4 separate regions of the Homo sapiens genome follow, and all the other regions are linked to region 4. The links come from fine-mapping of genetic effects on gene expression. A gene starts in region 4. Each other region holds a variant in brackets. All regions are shown on one strand. Distances are from middle to middle. Region 1 overlaps LOC105371888 (a long non-coding RNA gene). Region 2 has its middle 30 kb from the start of CD300LB. Region 3 holds the start of LINC02074 (long intergenic non-protein coding RNA 2074). Region 4 holds the start of CD300LB (CD300 molecule like family member b).

Evidence for each region.
Region 1: its variant is fine-mapped to the expression of CD300LB in whole blood (INTERVAL, PIP above 0.99).
Region 2: its variant is fine-mapped to the expression of CD300LB in whole blood (TOPMed, PIP above 0.99).
Region 3: its variant is fine-mapped to the expression of CD300LB in whole blood (INTERVAL, PIP 0.98).

The regions. Positions count from the first base shown.
Region 1 is chr17:73,933,881-73,939,029 of GRCh38, forward strand. All of the region lies in intron 5 of LOC105371888 (a long non-coding RNA gene), which reads right to left. Among named protein-coding and RNA genes, the nearest start is that of LINC00469, 110 kb to the left of the region's middle. The variant G/A (reference allele first, on the strand shown) is at 2,389.
Region 2 is chr17:74,499,216-74,504,364 of GRCh38, forward strand. No RefSeq gene overlaps it. Among named protein-coding and RNA genes, the nearest start is that of CD300LB, 30 kb to the right of the region's middle. The variant A/G (reference allele first, on the strand shown) is at 2,709.
Region 3 is chr17:74,109,469-74,114,617 of GRCh38, forward strand. It overlaps LINC02074 (long intergenic non-protein coding RNA 2074), which reads right to left and starts at 3,431. Exons shown (of 5, transcript NR_184085.1): 1 at 3,178-3,431. The variant G/A (reference allele first, on the strand shown) is at 2,967.
Region 4 is chr17:74,529,452-74,534,600 of GRCh38, forward strand. It overlaps CD300LB (CD300 molecule like family member b), which reads right to left and starts at 2,024. Exons shown (of 4, transcript NM_174892.4): 1 at 1,860-2,024. The coding sequence starts at 1,899. It overlaps LOC107985074 (a long non-coding RNA gene), which reads left to right. Exons shown (of 3, transcript XR_007065902.1): 2 at 3,096-3,190.

The DNA of each region.
Region 1 (5,149 bases), 600 kb before region 4:
TTTCTAATTGCTGTTGTAACAAATTACCACAAAGTGAGTGGATTAAAACAACATAAAGTGTTATTTTGCAGCTCTGGAGGCCAGAAATCCAGAAATGGGTTTATGTGGCTAAAACCAAGATGGTGGCAAGGCTGCATTCCTTCTAAAAGATGTAGGGAAGAATTCATTCCTTGCCTTTTGGGTTCTGAGAATGCCTGAAATTCCTTGGCTCACAGCCCACTTCCAGCAATGGCATAACTTTGACCTTTATTTCCATGGCCACATCTCCCTCCCTGACTCTAACTGTTCTGCTTCCCCTTGTGATAACACTGAGCCAACCCATATAATCTGGGGTAATCTCCCCATCTCAAAATTCTTAATCATATATGCAGTACCCCTTTTGTCATGTAAGGTAGCATATTCACAGATTCTAGAGGTGAGGATGTGGATGTCTTTGGGGGCCATTATTCTTTCTGCCAACTTTGGGGAGCAGACTTCAGGTGCTCCTGAAGATCCAGCACAAGGAAGAGGGTGCAAGTGGCTCAAACAGTATCATCAGGGTCTTTCTTTCATCTTTATCTCTGCAGTCTGCTTCCTTCATGTTAGTCATATTCTCAAGGCCATTTCAAATAGCTTTCCCCCTGCTAGCCAAGAAAAATGCTGCCTCTAGCCCTCAATTATGGCATTTCAGATTAGTAGATATTAATAGTTTGGGAAAAAATAATCTTTCCCCCTCTATCTTTCTCTCTGCCCTGGTCCAAATACCAGTCTCTGTGTAGATCCCTTGAATTAACAAAGGGATGCTTGGGAAGAAGGGCACCGGGGAGATATACAAATCCTTGAGACAGCTAGGGTGGGGGTTCATCAACCTAATTTGTAGATTAATCAGCATGTACCCATTTAGTAATCCAAGCTGGTGATGCCAGACACATCAGCTACAAAGTGCTCTAGCAGCAAGCCTGGTCATTATTTAGTCTCTTATAGATCAGGCCAACCACACAGAGCATGTGCAGGAATCCCAGCCCTGCTCAGCCCAGAGCATTGACATTTGTGGTTAAGCAGGGCCCCATGGAAGCCACACACCCGTCCCCCTTGGTTTCACCACGTGTCTCTGTAACTTTGAGGGAAAAGGACCCTCCCTCCTGGGATGGGATGATAATTAAGAGTAATTTCAGTCCTGTTGGGCTCCAGTTACAACAATTACAGGGTTCTGGATCAATTAATACTCACATTTGCATGGAGAAGATGGTGAAATTTAGAATGTAGACCCCCCATTTAGGAGCTATAGCTAGGGTGACCCTACAGCCAGGTGTGCTAGGGACAGTCGTGGTTTGCACCTGAATTATTCATAGTTCTGCTCTTCACTCTCAAAGTGGTCCCTGTTTAAATGATCAGTGTTACGGTTACCCTAATGTTAGTAGAAGTAGAAAAGAGTTTATTTTCCCCTTCTACTGTTTCACTTACCCCTGAACCAGGTGGGGGACTCTAAGGCAGCAGCTGGAGAAGACCCCCAAATCACACAGGTACCCCTCTTCCTTGTGCCGGCTGTAAAGCCAAGGAATAAACCAACCCTTCCCATTGCAGGGAGTGGGAAGCCAGTGATGTGGCTTCCTAGTAGCTGTCCCCAGCCTCTAGACTGTACCGTCTGGATCTGCAGAGGCCTGTTCACTGTCATGCCTTCATGCAGATCTCTGGGGTAAGTGCTCTGTTGCTGTAGGAAAATAACTTACAACTTTTCTTTGAATGTATTTACATGAATGCCTATACCTTTATTTAAATGCATAAATGTTGTCATTACATGATTCATGTGTATGTGTGTGTGTGTGTTTGTGCAGACTCTTAGTTTTTTTTCCTGTTAGTTTGACTTTCCTTGACACCTCTCCTCTGTCCTCCACCCATAACCACTAGAAATTCATGCTAATAGCCTAGTAGGGATCCTTCCACATTTTTCTTCATGATCATATTATCCTGTATAAATATATACATACACACACTACATGTGGTAGACATGTATGTACATACATGTATGTAACTTTTTATACACACCCACATGCATTCACTTATACACATGTGTGCACTTATACATGTATAGCCAGCCTTTTGTCATTATTTGTTTTGCAGAAATATATGATATTCAGTTTCTTGCATCTTGTTTTCCTCACTCAACAATACCTTGGGGAACTCTCTCTCTGTCCTCCAATATTGCTCTAATTGTTTTCAATAGGGCATAATATCGCATGGTATAAATGTACTATAATTTATGCACCCAGACCTCAAGAGTGACTGCTCACTTTGTTTTCATGGGAGAAATTTCCCACATTCACCAAATATAAATGTGTGACACTGGCCGGGCGCGGTGGCTCACGCCTGTAATCCCAGCACTTTGGGAGGCCGAGACGGGCGGATCAC[G/A]AGGTCAGGAGATCGAGACCATCCTGGCTAACATGGTGAAACCCCGTCTCTACTAAAAAAAAAAAATACAAAAATTAGCCGGGCATGGTGGCGTGCGCCTGTAGTCCCAGCTACACGGGAGGCTGAGGCAGGAGAATGGCGTGAACCCGGGAGGTGGAGCTTGCAGTGAGTCGAGATCACGCCACTGCACTCCAGCCTGGGCGACAGAGCGAAACTCCGTCTCAAAAAAAAAAAAAAAAAAAAAGTGTTACACTTTTGCCCTAATGCTCCTGACTCACATCTGATTCAAAAGTCTTTAAAAACACATGTCGATTTGAAAAATATAATCAGCTGCTATTTTTTCCAAGATGTCACACTGACCCACCATCAAACTGTCGGCACAGCTTGGTACACTTGTTCCCTACGCAGAGTCACAATCAGCCTTTTGTATTCTCTGGTGTTTGTTGTCTGATTGCAATTCTGAATTGGGGTGACCATCAAAACTGGGTGCCTACACAGGAGGCATCTCAATGTATTAGAGAGGGGCCAGTCTTTGGAACAGACAGACCTGGGTTCAAATTCTGATAACCATCACCTATAAGCTGGGAGATTTGGATAAATGCTCACCTTCCCCCAGCCCCTGTTTTCTTTGTCTTTCAGATAGAAATCATGATACCAACCACATAGAGCATTAAATGAGATTATGGGTGCACAGGGCCTGGTCCCAGGGGGCCCACTGCCCAGGTGGCTTTTCCCAACCACAAATTATGAATCATGTTGGACTTGAAGGGGAAAAGTTCAAATTGATCAATAGCGATGTCAGGGGCAAACAGTCCGAGTCAGATAAGCAAACAGAAACAGGTTGTTTTTGGAATAATTGGATGCCCTGTCTTTGTTTGCAGAGCAGCGTGTGCACCATGGATGTTTAAGGAAGCTTATTGCCAGCAATGTCCAGATGACTGGTGAGCCACAGCAAGAGAGGGGCCTGGCTGCGGGAGGGATCCAGAAAGCAGGGAGCTGATGGAGGTTTAGGATTAGGACCTGAGGAAGGGATGCTAGGGCAAGGATGCGGGAGGTAGCAGTGGCCTGAACCCTCCTACACTCTGGCCACAGACTTGATGTGGCAGGAGTAGTTGGGTGGGCATTTTTCCGCCTGGCAGCAGAGGTCGCTTTCTGTCCTCTCCCCACACCATACATCACACTTTCCAACTCCACCATACTCAACCCCCTAAGAAGAAGAAAGAGGAAATGAGCTCCACAACACAGGTCTGTTACGGACTGAATATGTGTGTCCCCTCAAAATGCATATATTGAAGCCCTAACACTCCAGTGGGATGGTATTTAGATGTGGGGACTTTGGGAAGTGATTAGGGTTAGATGAGGTCACAGGGTAAGGCCCCTATGATGGAATGAATGGCCTTATAAGAAGAGGAAGGAAAAGACTAGAGAGCATGCATGCGCTGTCAGTCTCTCTCCCTCCCTCCTTGCCACGGGAGGACACAGCAAGAAGGTGGCCATCTGCAAGCCAGGAAGAGAGGCCTCACCAGGACCCACATCAGCTGGCACCTTGATCTTGGACTTCCAGCTTCTAGAACTGTAAGAAATAAACGTCTATGGCATTCTGTTATGGAAGCCCAAGCTGACTGAGACTGCAGCCCTGCCTTTCCTTTTAGGGTACCCAAAATGGAGTCCTGTGGCCAACACAAGCCGTGTGCCTCATCTCTTGCCATGTTCCAGTAGGGGGATATAGCTGTGGCCAAGACAAGTGGGGAGGTATCTGGGGTGCTCACAGGCAGGGCCTGGAGAGGAGCCCTCTTCTGGGCAACTTACACAGGACTCTGAGATACTCCTCAGCATCTCCCCTCCTTGGTGCTAGGCATGGTGTCTTGCACACAGTGGGAGCTTTATATGTGTTTGGTGAGACATTGATTAAAAATAATAGACAGCGAATACACGCAGATGTGGAGAGAGACGGAACCAGCAGTTGCTAGATTGGAGGAAAGAGTGTATTCCCGCCTCAGCCCCGCCCTGTCCACAGCTATGAATTAATCTGCGGTGGGGAGCGGGATTCCTTCATTAAAATCTCCAAAAAGGGAGTCATATTAACAGCCAGGCACACCGTTCTTTTCCCTCAAGGTAAGAAGATTCATGGCTCAAACTTACATTTTATCACGCACAACCGAATAAAAATGATCAATTTCCCTGCCCGCCTTACAGCATCCTTCCACAGTTATTAAAGTCTCTAAAAATGTTTTCCTTAAAAAAAAAAGGTTAAAAGAAAGAGAGGTGCAGAGAGTGCAAACCAAGAAGAAGCTGGGAAATGCTGCCTAGCTGAGGGCTATCCATCTTGTCAGCTGCAGACCACATAACCTTGATGTCACTATATTTTCTGCTCATATCCAAATTTACAATTTGCCAGCCAAGGATATGGAAATGCCAAACCTCCCCCTTGGAGGTGGATGCTGGAAGGTTCTTAAAGAGCCTGAGAGAGAGGAGCATCCTAGCTCTGAAAACTCCAAAAAGACACTGAGCCTGCTGCTGGACTCTTAGCAATTTTCCCTGAGTTGGGAAAAACCAGCCTCCAAGGTCAAGGAGATGGATTTCAACTCCAGGGCCACACACACATTCAGCAAGAGCCCCTTTGTTCATTGAAGAACAAGCAGGTTTCCACTTTGGAGGGCCAGAAATGTACCTGTGCAAGTTAGGAAATGGGAGGGTTGGGCCACGCAACAAACAAACTCTGGTGTAAACCAGAGTGAAAGAGAAGTGTTTAACCTACAGG
Region 2 (5,149 bases), 30 kb before region 4:
GGAAGTTATAAAATTAACAAAAAAGTCTCCTTCCTCCTACCCTACCCCTAGTACCATTCCACAAAAGTGACTACTGTTAGCCATTTCTTACACAGCTTTCAGAAAACTTATTATTATTTCAAAATTATTTTCAAAAGGGCTAATCCAGGCGCAGTGGTTCACATTTGTAATCCCAGCACTTTGGGAGGCCGAGGCAGGCGGATCACCTGAGGTCAGGAGTTCAAGACCAGCCTGGCCAACTTGGTGAAACCCTGTCTCTACTAAAAATACAAAATTAGCCAAGTGTGGTGACACACACCTGTAATCCCAGCTACTTGGGAGGCTGAGGAAGGAGAATCGCTTGAGCTCAGGAGGCAGAGGTTGCAGCGAGTCAAGATCGCGCCACTGCACTCCAGCATGGGCGACACAGCAAGACTCCATCTCCAAAAAAAGTGGGGGGAGGGGCTCATAATTCTTCATACCTCACTTTTGCATATGTCCTAGAGACCTTGTTATACAAGTACACACAAATCTACCTCATTCTTTTATATGTGATTCCACAGTTTTAATTCATTCCGTTATTTACTCATTTACTTGATGACTTTTATTGAATACCTACTATATACCATGGAGCTATACAGCAGAGACATAGCAGTGAAGAAGATAAATGAGGCCCCTTCTGTCTGGTCCTTGTATCTTAGTGGGCAGTAGACAGAACAAACAAAACAAAAGCAAGCTTCGTTCAGATCATCACAGAACTGCTGTGTGAAGATCTGAATTGTGTACAGCTGAGAGTGATGAGAGGCAGGAAGGGCTGCTTGCATAGGGAGGTCATGGAGGGACTTCCTGACATTTGAGCTGAGACTTGAGAAGGAGCCAGCCACACAATAATATAGAGTGAGAGCATTCCTGGCAGAGGAAACAGCTCAGGCAAAGGCTCTAAGGGGGAACAAGGCTAGTGTGTCCCAGGCTTAGGGTGCCGGCCAGATGAGTACAGAGTAGACAATGTGGGGAGCTTGGTGGGAGGCAGACGCAGAAAGGCAGAGGCAGGCAGTGGTCAGATCAGGGAAGGGTTAATACGCAAATGTGTGGATTTTGTCCTAAGTGGAAACTCTGAAAAATTTCAAGCAAGGGAGTCACACAATGGCACCTTGGAATGGGGTGGTGGATGTGGCCATTGGAGAAGGTGGACAAGCTCAGAATGCATTCTGGCCGTAGAGCCAACCCAACAGGCTGAAGGATTGGATGTGGGAGGGAGTGAAAAGAAAGGAATAAAAATTGCAGGTGACTTCTACGGTTTTCACTTGAGCAATTGGGAGGGCAGTAAAGGTGGGTCCCTTTACGGAAATGGAAAGACTAAGAGAGCAGCAGTTTTGGGGTGGAATTGGGGAGAGGAAACAGGGACTCTGTTGGGCGTACAGATGCTCAAATAAAGATGACAAGCCCCCTATTGGCTGTATGAGTCAGGCGCTGGGGGAGGGACTGGAGCTGTAGGTGCACAATGCATGCCGATGTATCTGTGTGTCATACAAGGCCCCATGTATGACTGCGTGTGTATACACATGCACAGATGCACACATTGTTATGTCATCCCAGACCATGTTTTTGTATTTTTGTACCTGTATCTTGGTATATATCTGAGTATATCTTTTTTTTTTTTTTTTTTTTTTTTTTTTGAGACAGAGTCTTGCTCTGTTGCCCAGGCTGGAGTGCAGTGGTGTGATCTTGGCTCACTGCAACCTCTGTCTCCCGGGTTCAAGCGATTCTTCTGCCTCAGCCTCCCAAGTAGCTGGGACTACAGGCGTGCACCACCACACCCAGCTAATTTTTGTATTTTTAGTAGAGATGGGGTTTCACCGTGTTGGCCAGGCTGGTCTCGATCTCCTGACCTCGTGATCTGCCCACTTCAGCCTCCCAAAGTGCTGGGATTACAGGCGTGAGCCACCACGCCTGGCCTATCTGAGTATATCTTTAGGAGAAATTTCCAATAGTGGAGCATTAGTCAAAAGGTCCATGAATTGACTTTTTTTTAATAGATCTTGACAAATTTTCCTTCAAAAAGCTCTTGCCCACTGTCATGCCAAGCGTCAGGTTCCAGCCCATGTTGAGGTCTGAGGGGAGTGGGTGGATGGGTGGCGAATAGCGGAAGGAATATTTAGGGGGCTGTAGGCAGGTAAAATATGGTTTTATTCAGCAGCTTTTTCATCAGCAGTTTTTTTTATATACTTTAAGTTCTAGGGTACATGTGTACAATGTGCAGGTTTGTTACATAGGTATATATGTGCCATGTTGGTTTGCTGCACCCATCAGCTCGTCATTTACACTAGGTATTTCTCCTAATGCTATCCCTCCCCCAGCCCCCCACCCCTTGACAGGCCCCGGTGTGTGATGTTCCCCACCCTGTGTCCAAGTGTTCTCATTGTTCGATTCCTACCTATGAGTGAGAACATTCGGTGTTTGGTTTTCTGTCCTTGTGATAGTTTCATCAGAAGCTTTCTCATACAATTCACCTTTATCTCGGCTGCCTGCTCCAGCTTTGCGGCTCTTGCCATTCCCAGGCTTACAGCTGCATTCCCTGGCCTACAAGCCTGGCTCTCCCTTATGGGGTCAGCAGTTTTACTCTCTGCCTCTGGGCACAAGCCATGCCGAACCACATGTACAGCGTCAGCAGGGCAGTTATACCTTTTACAGACAATAGTGGCTCTGAGCCACTTACACAAACAGATTAC[A/G]TAACAAGTGGAGTTATGCGCCTGCGCGCCAGACTCCCTGAGTCACGCTGGCCCTGATGTTTGCCTCTGCCTGTTTTGTTTTTGTTTTTGTTTTTGTTTTTTGAGACGGAGTTTCGCTCTGTCGCCCAGGCTGGAGTGCAATGGTGCAATCTCGGCTTACTGTAACCTCCGCCTCCCAGGTTCAAGCGATTCTCCTGCCTCAGCCTCCCGAGCCACCACACCCAGCTATTTTTTTTTTTTTTTTGTATTTATAGTAGAGATGGGGTTTCACCATGTTGGCCAGGCTGGTCTCAAACACCTGACCTCTGGTGATCCACCCGCCTCAGCCTCCCAAAGTGTTAGGATTGCAGGCGTGAGCCACCGCACCTGGCTAACCTATTCTTGACCAAAGCACATCCATGTACCTTACACCCACTTACCTTCCCATCAAGAACACTCAACGATGTCCCTTTCCCTACACTCTCGCCAGTATTGGATATTTTCACACTCTATTTTCTTTTCAATCTGATAGAAGAAAATAATATCTTATAATTTTCAGAATTTGCATTCCTTTATTTGCCATTTTAGTTTTTTTCCTGTGAACTATCCATTTGCCCATTTTGCCATTGAGCTTTTAATCTATCTTACTGAGTTCCTCCGAGTGCTTTGTAAATTAAGAAAATAAGCTCTCTGTCAAATTGCCTGCAACATTTCCTTCATAGCTTGTCATTTTTTAAAAAACTTTCAAAGGTGTTTTCACCCAGTGATGTTTCATCTTTTTTCTGAGGTCAGATTTCTCAATCATTTGCTTTATAAAGTTTGAGTTTTCCTTAGGATGCTCCATTTCAAGAGTCTAATAAATTCACCCATTATTCTAAAACTTTTGTAAATTTCATTTTATATTTTCAGTTTATTCTAAAACTTGCAGTTTTCAGTTTATTCTAAAACTTTTAAATAGTCTAAGACTTTAGAAAGATTTCAGTTTATTCTAAAACTTGTGTAGTTTCTTCGTATTTAAATCTTTGATCCATTTGAAACTATTTTGGCTTACAGAGTGCGGTATGAACAGAACTTGAGTTTGTATAAGACTTAGCCAGCTGTCTCTACATCACTGATTGAGTAACCCCTCGTGTCCCATGCATAGTCCTAGGCGCCACTGTGCTGGATCAGAAGCGAAGGGAGAAGGTTAAGTGACTCACTCAGTATTTGACCACAACACTGCTTAGCTCAAAAGTCCACCTTGCTGCCCCCTTTTAGTTAAAATGAGCCTGTTAGTGAGACCCTTGATTTTTTTAGCTTTTTTTATTTTTAGTTTTTCTGGGTCATAGTAGGTGTATATATTTATGAGGTGCCTCGGGAGCATTCTGGACCATCACAGACGCTTTGGGTAACTCTTACATTGGAGGGTAAGCCCATCCCCTTCTTAATCAATACGGAGGCTACCCACTCCACATTACCTTCTTTTCGAGGGCCTGTTTCCCTTGCCTCCATAACTGTTGTGGCTATTGACGACCAGGCTTCTAAACCTCTTAAAGCTCCCCAACTCTGGTGCCAACTTGGACAACATTCTTTTATGCACTCCTTTTTAGTTATCCCCACCTGCCCAGTTCCCTTATTAGGTGAGGCATTTTAACTAAATTGTCTGCTTCCCTGACTATTCCTGGGCTATAGCCACACCTCATTGCTGCCCTTTTCCCCAGTTTAAATCCTCCTTCGCATCATCCCCTTGTGTCTCCCTACCTTAATCCACAAGTATAGGACACCTCTACTCCCTCCTTGGTGACCGATCATGCACCCCTTACCATTCCATTAAAACCTAATCACCCTTACCCCGCTCAACACCAGTATCCCATCCCACAGCACACTTTAAAAGGATTAAAGCCTGTTATCACTGGCCTGCTACAGCATGGCCTTCTAAAGCCTATAAACTCTCCTTGCAATTCCTCCATTTTACCTGTCCAAAACCCGGAAAAGTCTTACAGGTTAGTTCAGGATCTGCACCTTATCAACCAAATTGTCTTGCCTATCCACACCGTGATGCCAAACCCATATACTCTCCTATCCTCAATACCTCCCTCCACAACCCATTATTCTGTTCTAGATAAATGTAGCTGACCCCATAGATCCTAAATCCTTTCCCCACTCCTCTTTCCATTCCTTAAAAAACTCATCCCAACCCTTTTCATTACACACAGCTGAAGTACAGGACTGTGTGGTCGGAATTCTTACACAAGAGCTGGAACCACGCCCTGTAGTCTTTCTGTCCAAACAACTTGACCTTACTGTTTTAGCCTAGCCCTCATGTCTGCGTGCAGCGGCTGCCACTGCTTTAATATTTTAGAGGCCCTCAAAATCACAAACTATGCTCAACTCACTCCGTACAGTTCTCATAACTTCCAAAATCTATTTTCTTCCTCCCACCTGATGCATATACTTTCTGCCCTCCGGCTCCTTTGGCTATA
Region 3 (5,149 bases), 420 kb before region 4:
TTGTTGCCTGAGGTCGAATAAAGAACTCTTAAAGGGATAATGGCTCAGTAACTCAGGTGCTAAAGTAATGGAAGCGAGAGGGAAGATCACCTCCTGACTCTCAATCTCTGGGGGACAGGGGGCGGTGGGAACGAGAAAGAATTGATGGGGGCCTCCTCCTGTGTCCCTGAACAAACAGAGCACTTGCAAGAAAAGTGCTTAGGAACTAATCACCCCTACGAGTGGGAGGGGTGCCCTTCAGATGGTAAATCTCCCCATTACCAAGGACGCTTCCTTTATTGTGGATTCGCAGTCTCCTCAGAGAAGCATCCAAGGAGCTTGGCATCTCCCTTGCTCCTGGTGAGACCGGAAGGCAGGCTGGTCCCCAGCTCTTCAGAGTGGAGCTGGGAAGAGCTGCAGCTGCCCCAACGCTGGGAAGTCACCAGTCCTTAGGGTTGCTACGTTTAGCAGATGAAAATTCAGGATGGGCCAGGTGTGATGGCTCACACCTGTAATCCCAGCACTTTGGGAGGCCGAGGCAGGTAGATCACCTGAGGTCAGGAGTTCGAGACCAGCCTGGCCAACACGGTGAAACCCTGCCTCTACTAAAAATACAAAAATTAGCTGGGCGTGGTGGTGGGTGTCTGTAATCCCAGCTGCTCCGGAGGCTGAGGCAGGAGAATCACTTGAACCCGGGAGGCAGAAGTTGCTGTGAGCCAAGATCACGCCACTGCACTCCAGCCTGGGTGACAGAGCAAGACTCCATCTCAAAAAAAGAAAAAAAAAAAAAGACATAACAGCCAGGTAAATCTGAAAAACAGCTCTAACTGCCTAACTTGTAATGTTTTGGTGAGAGACAGCTAAATAATATTTAGGGTGTTCCAACAGGGTCAATATGGGTCAAAGGACAACATCTGTTAGCTCAGAAGAAATCTGTCAGCACAGAGCATATGCGTTGGCCGGGCACGGCGGCTCATGCCTGTAATCCCAACACTTTGGGAGGCCAAGGTGGGAGAATCGCTTGAGCACATTTCAAAAATCAGCCTGGACAACATAGGGATATCCCTGTCTCTACAAAAATAAAAAAAAAAATGAGCCACGCCTGGTGGCACGTGCCTGTGGTCCCAGCTACTTGAGGGGCTGAGATGAAAGGATTGCTTGTTGAGATCAAGGGTGCAGTGAGCCGTGATCACGCCACCGCATTCCAGCCTGGGAGACAGAGCAAGACCCTGTCTCAAACAAAAAAAATGTGTATACACAGGGCCCCTGGCCACCGTCCCCGCTCGAAACCCCACGCAAGTGTGTGGGAAGTGCCCTGCCCCACACACAGTAATCTGTCTGCTCCTCCCAGGGTGAACTCCGTATGAATGACAGCCTGGCAGTCTGTGTGTGCTTCCCCACTAGGGTAGGGGCCCAGAAAAGGGCTCTCCAAAGTGGGCTGATAACATTTTGGACTGTTAAGTCTTTTCATCCTAGGGGGCCTTCCTGGTGGAAGCAGGCTTCAAAGAAAGATTTATGTACACCACAGAGCTCCAGCATCTCCTACATTTAAAAGTCTGGGACACTCTCAAAGGACCAAATAAGTTGCATTGGAACAAAAGTGACAAACAGGAAGGCGGGATAGGTAGGGGGCGGGTAGTGCCATGGGGCTTGGACACTGTGGCTGGCAAGTCATTTCACCCTTCTGAAACTGGTTTTTTTAATTTTATAGTTAAAGGATCTTGTTATGTTGCCCAGGCTGATCTCAAACACCTGGGTTCAAGCGATCCCCCTGCTTCGCCTCCCAAAGCGCTGGGATTCCACTGGCCGGCTTGAAACCCTCTTATTTGTGGGATGAAGACTGCCCAGCCCACAGGTTGTTTTGAAGATCACATGGGGTGATGGAAATAAAAATGCTTTCAAATAGCAAGCTGCGGCCGGGCACAGTGGCTCACGCTGTAATCTCAGCACTTTGGGAGGCTGAGGCGGGTGGATCACGAGGTCAGGAGATCTCTCGAGACCATACTGGCTAACACAGTGAAACCCCATCTCTACTAAACAAAAATAGAAAAATTAGCCAAGCGGCTACTCGGAGGCAGAAGAATGGCGCGAACCCGACAAGCGGAGCTTGCAGTGAGCCAACATGGCGCCACTGAACTCCAGCCTGGGCGACAGAGCAAGACTGTCTCAAAAAAAAAGTAAAAAAAAATAAAAATAGCAAGCTGCTACAGAATGGAATATAAGCTCCTAATAAAATTGGACATGACCTGACACCGAGTACCAAGCTAAACACTTCACGTGCTTTATCTCAGCGCCTCTCAGTTAATCTCATCGTCACATGCCTATGGGGCCAATCCATAACTTCTTCACTTTGCATCTGTGGAGCTCAGAGGTCTTGTACGGCCTGGCCCCACAGTCGGTAAATGAAACACAGACCCTGGCCGGGTGCGGTGGCTCACACCTGTAATTCCAGCACTCTGGGAGGCCAAGGCAGGCAGATCACGAGGTCAGGAAATTGAGACCATCCTAGCTAACATGGTGAAACCCGGTCTCTACTAAAAATACAAAAAAATCAGCCAGGCATGGTGGTGGGCGCCTGTAGCCCCAGCTACTTGGGAGGCTGAGGCAGGAGAACGGCGTGACTCCGAGGTGGAGCTTGCAGTGAGCCGAGATGGAGCCCCCACACTCCAGCCTGGGAGACAGAGTGAGACTCTTGTCTCAAAAAAAGACCCTGATTCCAAACCCGGTGTTCATTCATTCCTTGTTCAACAACGATTCAGCAAATGTTTGCTGCCATCAGCAGAGTTCAGGGTATCAAAAAGAAAGCAGTGGATGGGAGACACCCACTCTTGCTCTCATAAAACTCAGTCTATTAGAACCATCACCACAGGAGAAAGGATAATTTTCCAAGCATTTACAAGGCACCAAGGACCGTGCTAGGTACTTTCCATGATATAGGAACTAATGTTATTCCCATTATTTCAATGAAAACCGAAATTCAAAAAGGC[G/A]AAATGATAAACCCAGGTCACACAGCTACGGTGGAGCTTGGATTTGAACCCAAGTCCTGGACTCCAGAGGCCTTATTCTCCCTTGCTGCTACGCTAGAGAAACAAAAAGCTTTCATTGTGATGATTTAAAGCTTAACCCTCACTATAAGGATAGTGACCCCATATATTACCATGTTGTGTCTGGAATTTGTGGATTCTTGGTCTTACTAACCTCAAGAATGAAGCCGTGAACCCTCGCACTGAGTATTACAGTTCTTAAAGGCGGCGTGTCCGGAGTTTCTTCCTTCTGGTGGGTTAGTGGTCTCGCTAAGCTTCAAGAGTAAAGCTGCAGACCTTCATGGTGAGTGTTACAGCTCATAAAGGCAATATAAACCCAAAGTGAGCAATAGCAATATTTATTGCAAAATAGTGCAGAGTGAAAGAACAAACCTTCCACAGCACAGAAAGATAACCAAACGGGTTGCTACCGCTAGCTCCGGCAGCCTGCTTTTATTCTCTTATCTGGCCCCACCCACATCCTGCTGATTGGTCCATTTTACAGAGAGCCCATTGGTCTGTTTTACAGAGAGCTGATTGGTCCGTTTTGACAGGGTGCTGATTGGTGCGTTTACAATCCCTGAGCTAGACACAAAAGTTCTCCACATCCCCACTAGATTAGCTAGATACACAGTGTCGATTGGTGTATTTACAAACCCTGAGCTAGACACAGAGTGCTGATTGGTGCATTTACAAACCTTGAGCTAGATACAGAGTGCCGATTGGTGCATTCACAATCCCTGAGCTAGACATAAAGATTCTCCAAGTCCCCACCAGATTCAGGAGCCCAGTTGGCTTCACCCAGTGGAGCCGCCTGCCCGCCCGGCGCCGTTCGCCCGCACTCCTCAGCCCTTGGGCGGTAGATGGGACTGGGCGCAGCGGAGCAGGGCGCGGCGCTTGTCAGGGAGGCTCGGACCGCGCAGTAGCCCACGGCGGGGGCGGGGGCGGGGGCGAGGGCAGGGGCGAGGCTCAGGCATGGCAGGCTGCAGGTACCGAGCCCTGCCCCGCGGGGAGGCAGTTAAGGCCCTGCGAGAAATCGAGCGCAGCGCCGGTGGGCCAGCACTGCTGGAGGACCCGACGCACCCTCCGCAGCTGCTGGCCCGGGTGCTAAGCCCCTCACTGTCGGCCGGCCGCTCCGAGTGCGGGACCCGCCAAACCCACGCCCGGGGAACTCTACCAGCAAGCGCTGTGCGCAGCCCCGGTTAGCCCCCGTGCCTCTTGCTCCACACCTCCCCGCAGCCTGAGGGAGCCGGCTCCAGCCTCCACCATCCCAGGAAGGGGCTCCCACAGTGCAGCAGCGGGCTGAAGGGCTCCTCAAGCGCGGCCACAGTGGGCGCCGAGGCCGAGGAGGCACCAAGAGCGAGCGAGGGCTGTGAGGGCTGCCAGCATGCTGTCACCTCTCAATGTCAGGTTTTCAGAGTCTAAGTTTGTGAAATTTAGAAAGAAGAGGAGAATCGCTGGGTATAGATGTAAAACAATGCTTTGTAGGAAGGATCTAACATTTTCTTTCAGGATGAGGGCAGGAGTGCGTATCTGAGGCTTTGGCTCAAAGACAAAGAGGGAGAGAGAGGGCTTCACCTCATGATCTACAACATTTCCACGATGTACCACCGCGTCCCGGCTCCCCGATCCCCTTGGAAGAATTCGTTCTCTCGGTCAGAGCGACCTCGCACGCTGATCGGTCGAGGGACCCGCCATGCTCAGGGCTCAGCACCCCCGAGTTAAGGAGACAAGAGCAGCCATCTCCCGGCCCCCAAGCACCCGGACTCACACCCGCCTCTGCTGCGACTTCACCAAGGAAGGAAAAATGGCTCGAAATGCCTGTACATTAAGAAGCGTATAATTATGCATAATAAAAAGACGCCGGCCCTTGTGTATATAAACACAGCTTTGACTGAGTGCCTTCTCCCAGGCAGCCCTTCTGGCTCTCAACAGCAGCAGTGGAACATCTTAAACATATGGTCGCCATCCAGGCCTCCAGGCAGATCTGAACTGGGGAGGGGGTGGGGGCAGGGGCAGGCGGGAGGTGGAGACGGGACGGGGATACAGGAAAATCAGGAGATGGTTGTTTGGGGAAGAGGGTTACACGGAGAGCTGGTGGGCCAGGGGTCAGACATTTACAATCAGGACATAATCTGTGACCTGCC
Region 4 (5,149 bases):
GACTGTCTCCTCCTCCTCATCAGCTGCACTTGCCCTGAGCATCTAAAAGTCTTTTCGGGGCCGGGCACGGTGGCTCATGCCTGTATTCCCGCACTTTGGGAGGCCAAGGTGGGTGGATCACCTGAGGTCAGGAGTTCAAGACCAACCTCACCAACATGGTGAAATCCTGTCTCTACTAAAATTACAAAAATTAGCCAGGCATGGTGGCAGGCACCTTAATCCCAGCTTCTTGGGAGACTGAGGCAGAAGAATCACTCGAACCTGGGAGGCGGAGGTTGCAGTGAGCCAAGGTTGCACCACTGCACTCCAACCTGGGTGACAGAGTGAAACTCCGTCTCAAAAACAAAAAACAAAAACAAAAACAAAATACCCAAAAACATAAATTGGATTTGTCAGCAATCACTAACAGCAGAAAAGAGATGCTGCTGCATTGAACAAAGTGTCATCAATCCCAGCTTCAGTCATTCAAACTGTAAATGGCTCACGATGTAATTAGTCCCGTTTAAAAAAATATTTGGGGGTTTCTCTAACCACAGAATATGATGGCTGGAACTATTAATCAGGCTTCTATATGTTGTCAAGAGTTGGTATGAGGAACGATAGAGATGGAAATGACAGGGCAGCCGTCAGCTTGGAGCAGAGCCCCGTTGAACGGGCTGAAGGGTGGAAGTCCAGCCAGGACTGGAGTCGGGTCTCAGAACTCCCCAGCCATGCTCTTTCCTGTTGTCCCTCCGTGGACTGCTCTATCTGTGCCAGATGGTCAGTCCCTAGGCACCAGCAGAAAACTGTGTGGCCCACACACATTGCACACCCTGCGTAAAATTCTAGATTGTCCCCTAATGCCCTCTAGGTGTCCACCAAGGTTTGCCATGGAGAAGATCATCTAGCCCTTCCCACTTTCCACCTGGGTTCTTGAGAAGTTTTTTCTTTGAAAGTCTCAGCTCCTGAGCCTGGCGTGGATGGCCTTCATAATCTTGTCTTTTGTGTTTCCAACCTCATATCCAACTCGCCACCTCCAAGACATCCTGCACACTGACAGCTCCCTCTGCATGAATCCACCATTCTTTCTAAGCCTCCATCTCTCTGCCCAGGTCCCCCAACACACACACACACACACACACACACACACACACACACACACCCAACTCTCTAGAGTGTTCTCCTCTCAGCTCTGCTCCAGAGACTGACCTTCCTTCTACAAGGCACATCAAGTGCACAGCTTCGTGAGTCTTTCTCTAGTCACCAGAGAGAACTGCTTCATCCTCCGCACACGCCTCCACCAATGCCTTATTGTGTCCTGCAATTGCTCATTGTTTATGTGTATGTCTCACCCACTAAGCCATCTGGAGTCTTTTTACTTTATTTTTTTTTTGAGACAAGGTCCCACTGTATCACCCAGGCTGGAGTGCTGTGGTGCGATCATAACTCTGCAGAATTGAATACCTGAGCTCAAAGGATCCTCCAGCTTCAGCCTCCCAAGTAGCTGGGACTACAGGCACGGTCACCACGCCCAGCTAATTTTTGTTCATTTTATATAGAGACGAGGTCTCACCATGTTGCCCAAACTGGTCTTAAACGCCTGGACTCAAGCAATCCTCCCACCTTGGCCTCCCAAAGTGTTAGGATTATAGGTGTGAGCCATGGCCTCAAGCCTGGAGTCTTCTTTAATGGCCAGTTCTCCTCCTCTTTTTTCTTGATGTCCTCAGGCCCCGAAGCACACGATGTCAGTCCCCAGTGCACCTTTGTCGAATGACTTCACAAAGCCACCTCTCATTTCCCTGGATGTGGAAGGACAAATGCCCTCTGCCTCCTGCCCTGCCCCTGTCATACCAAGCGCCCAAGGCCCCAGCCCCACTCACCTGAGAGGCTGAGAAGGAGCAGAGCAGGGGGCAGCCACATGGCTCTGCCTTCCCGGCTCCTCGTCCGCCTGATCTGCAACCAGTGGCAAATGCAGATCCCAGATGCACTCTGGAAGTTCTGCCTGAGCTCTGGCTTGCACCTTCTGCACATCTAGACCGCCTTTGACTTTCTTACTCATTCACTTCCTTTTATAGAGTGGGTAGTTCCTGCTTTTAATTATTAAACGAAAGAGGTGTCATTTTTTGGCAGGGCTGCGCCACAGGGCTTAAGCATCGTCACTATGTAAAAAAGAGGAGGGAGGGGACTGTGCAGGGTCTTTAGGGTAGGGGGAGATACGTCTGCAGAAGGGGTGGGGTGGGGGGCGTCTGGCCTAGCAGGCCTTGGGTCCAAGGGGTATAACACTCTGGGAGTCAATTTCAGAGCTGTTCTATACCACAGTGAACACCCAACTCAGATGTCGGATGGGTCATGCTGGGCACACCTGAACATGCATTTGTTCAGGTGTTATAGCCAAGTGCATAAACATGCAGACTGTTGGGTCAGACAGACCTGGCTCTAACCCCACGAGCACCACCTACAAGCTGCGTGACTGTGGACAATGCAATCAACATCTCTGTGCCTCAGTTATTGTATCTATTAACTGGGCTCATAATGTTTGTTGTTGTTATAGGAGTTATTAAGAAATTATTTTAGGTAGATAGGAAAAGGGGTGCTTGGGAAGATTTTTTTTTCTTTTAAAGCAGCTCCATAAATGTTTCTTGTCTAGAAGAAAAGCCCTGGCTCTTAGAGCTGGGCAGGCAAGCTTTGATATGCAAATACAGGCCATTAGAAACTGCGTCCACCCAAACATGGAGACTCCCGCCTCTTCTTCTTTTCCCCACGTTCCTGGCAACATGGCCGCCCCTACATACACCCATGTGTGTAGAACATCATGGCGCCTGTATTTGCATATTAAAAGGCTAGGGTAGGAAGGCTAGTTTTTTCGTGGGCTACTTGAATGACATACCTGGTCAAACCAATCCCCTGGGCCCTATGCAAATCAGGTACCGCCTCCTCCAGCCTCCTCATATAACTGGCTGTTTTCCACCGTACTCGAGGTTCCCTCTTTCAGCTTGGAGCCCGCCTCCCTCAGTCTCAGAACAGGGGGAGCCTCTTCCTTCCTTCTTTCTTGTCTATTAAATTCTCCACTCCTTAAAACCACTCCACGTGTGCCCATGTTGTTTTATTCAAACCAGTGGGAGACCAAGGACCCTAGTGTTCCTCCAGTCATCAGAGCCATACCATTTTGTTGCATTGGCCGGGAATCCAAGGTACGACACTCATCGGAGTGGTAAGTATGGGAGTGAGCTTAAAATCTCTTCTATCATTCCGAGGCACTCTTAGCCTCTATTTTAAAATAAAATAAGTCAATGGGCATCCGTCAGCCGGGTACATACACTTAGTGTTGGCTGCCATACTGAAGACTCGAATGTGAGGCTTGCTGCTGAGAACACGGAGAACCCCCCAACACCCCTGGGTCATTGGGAATGTTGGCCATGTTTTAAATCAGCTTCTTTTCACGGGAAGACCTCGCCATTGTGCAAGGCTGGGAAAAGTTCTAAGGCAACTAACAATTTCTGGCCAGAGCACACCCTGGCATGATTCAAAGGCCCCTGGACTGGACCCAGCCTCTGGCGGCCCATTCTGGGTGTTGGCAAAGAATCCTCAACTATCTTGTCACAAAACTCTCCTTCCTTCTCTATCTGCGGTCTCTTACACTTTCTTTGTGTGAAATGTGTAGCGAGTTTTACAGCCTAGGAAAGTAATCCTGTTAGGCAAAATCAGGAAGATGCCCTTGCAATCTTCTAGGAACAGAGTTCTCCCCTTTCTCCCACCGTGAGGTTACTCACTACCACGTCTCTAGTGAGCACATAGTATTTCTAAGCCAACAGTGCCACCTAGTAGAAATAGAAATCCTCTACATAAAGCATATTTTTTCATGGCAAACCGCAGCTTCTTTTTGCATGATTAGAAATCAGGCTCGGCCAGGCGCGGTGGCTCATGCCTGTAATCCCAGCACTTTGGGAGGCCGAGGCGGGCAGATCATGAGGTCGGGAGATCGAGACCATCCTGGCTAACACAGTGAAACCCCGTCTCTACTAAAAATACAAAAAAAAATTAGCCAGGCGTGGTGGCGGGCGCCTGTAGTCCCAGCTACTCGGGAGGCTGAGGCAGGAGAATGGCGTGAACCCGGCAGGCAGAGCTTGCAGTGAGCCGAGATCGCGCCACTGCACTCCAGCCTGGGCAACAGAGCAAGACTCGGTCTCAAAAAAAAGAAAAGAAAAGAAAAGGAAAGAGAGAGAGAGAGAGAAAGAAAGAACAAGAAAAGAAAAAAGAAAAAGAAATCAGGCTCTAGGCCTCTTCTTGAAATGGGAAAGTTCTGCCTTTAGCAGTTAGGAGTTAAGAAGTCTTCCATAGCCAAATTTTAGTCTCAATATTGTCCCATTGGCAGGAAAATGGCCATTCGGTTCCTACATTCCTTTAAGGCACCTATTCTGTCTCCGATTAAGATGGTACTTAATTAGTAAGGGGATTTTTAAGTCCAGAAGTTAACCAGAACCATTTTTCTAAGGGTAAATGCTTTAGCACAGGCCATAATAATAGCAAGATATAAAGTTCAATCTAGCACGCCCCCTCCCTTAAAGAGGCTTTGCCCAATTATGTAGTTTTTCTTTTTTTTTCTTTTCTTTTCTTTCCTTTTTTTTTTTTTTTTTTTTTTTTTTGAGATGGAGTCTTGCTCTTGCCACCCAGGCTGGATTGCAGTGGTATGATCTCAGCTCACTGCAACCTCCACCTCCCGGGTTCAAGTGATTCTCCTGCCTCATCCTCCCAAGTTGCTGGAATTACAGGTGCCCGCTACCATGTGTGGCTAATTTTTGTATTTTTAGTGGAGACAGGGTTTCACCATGTTGGCCAGGCTGGTCTTGAACTCCTGACCTCAGGTGATCCACCCACCTTGCCCTCCCAAAGTGCTAGAATTACAGACATAAGTCACCACACCTGGCCCGTAGTTTTTCTTAAAATCGTTGTTTTTTTGTTTTGTTTTTTAGGGAAGCACACAGGTCACACAGGAGGTCAAAAAGAAATAAAAGACTAAGGTGCTTGTGGAAGTGTAAGTGGGCCCAGAAGTCTAGTTTCTCTGGTGCCATGGCTTGGAGGGTCACGCCTGCAGTCATGGCCAGCACATTTAAATGGGTGCCAGGATCCAGGAACCAGGGAAAGAAAATAGTTGGGGGAACGCCCCCTACTG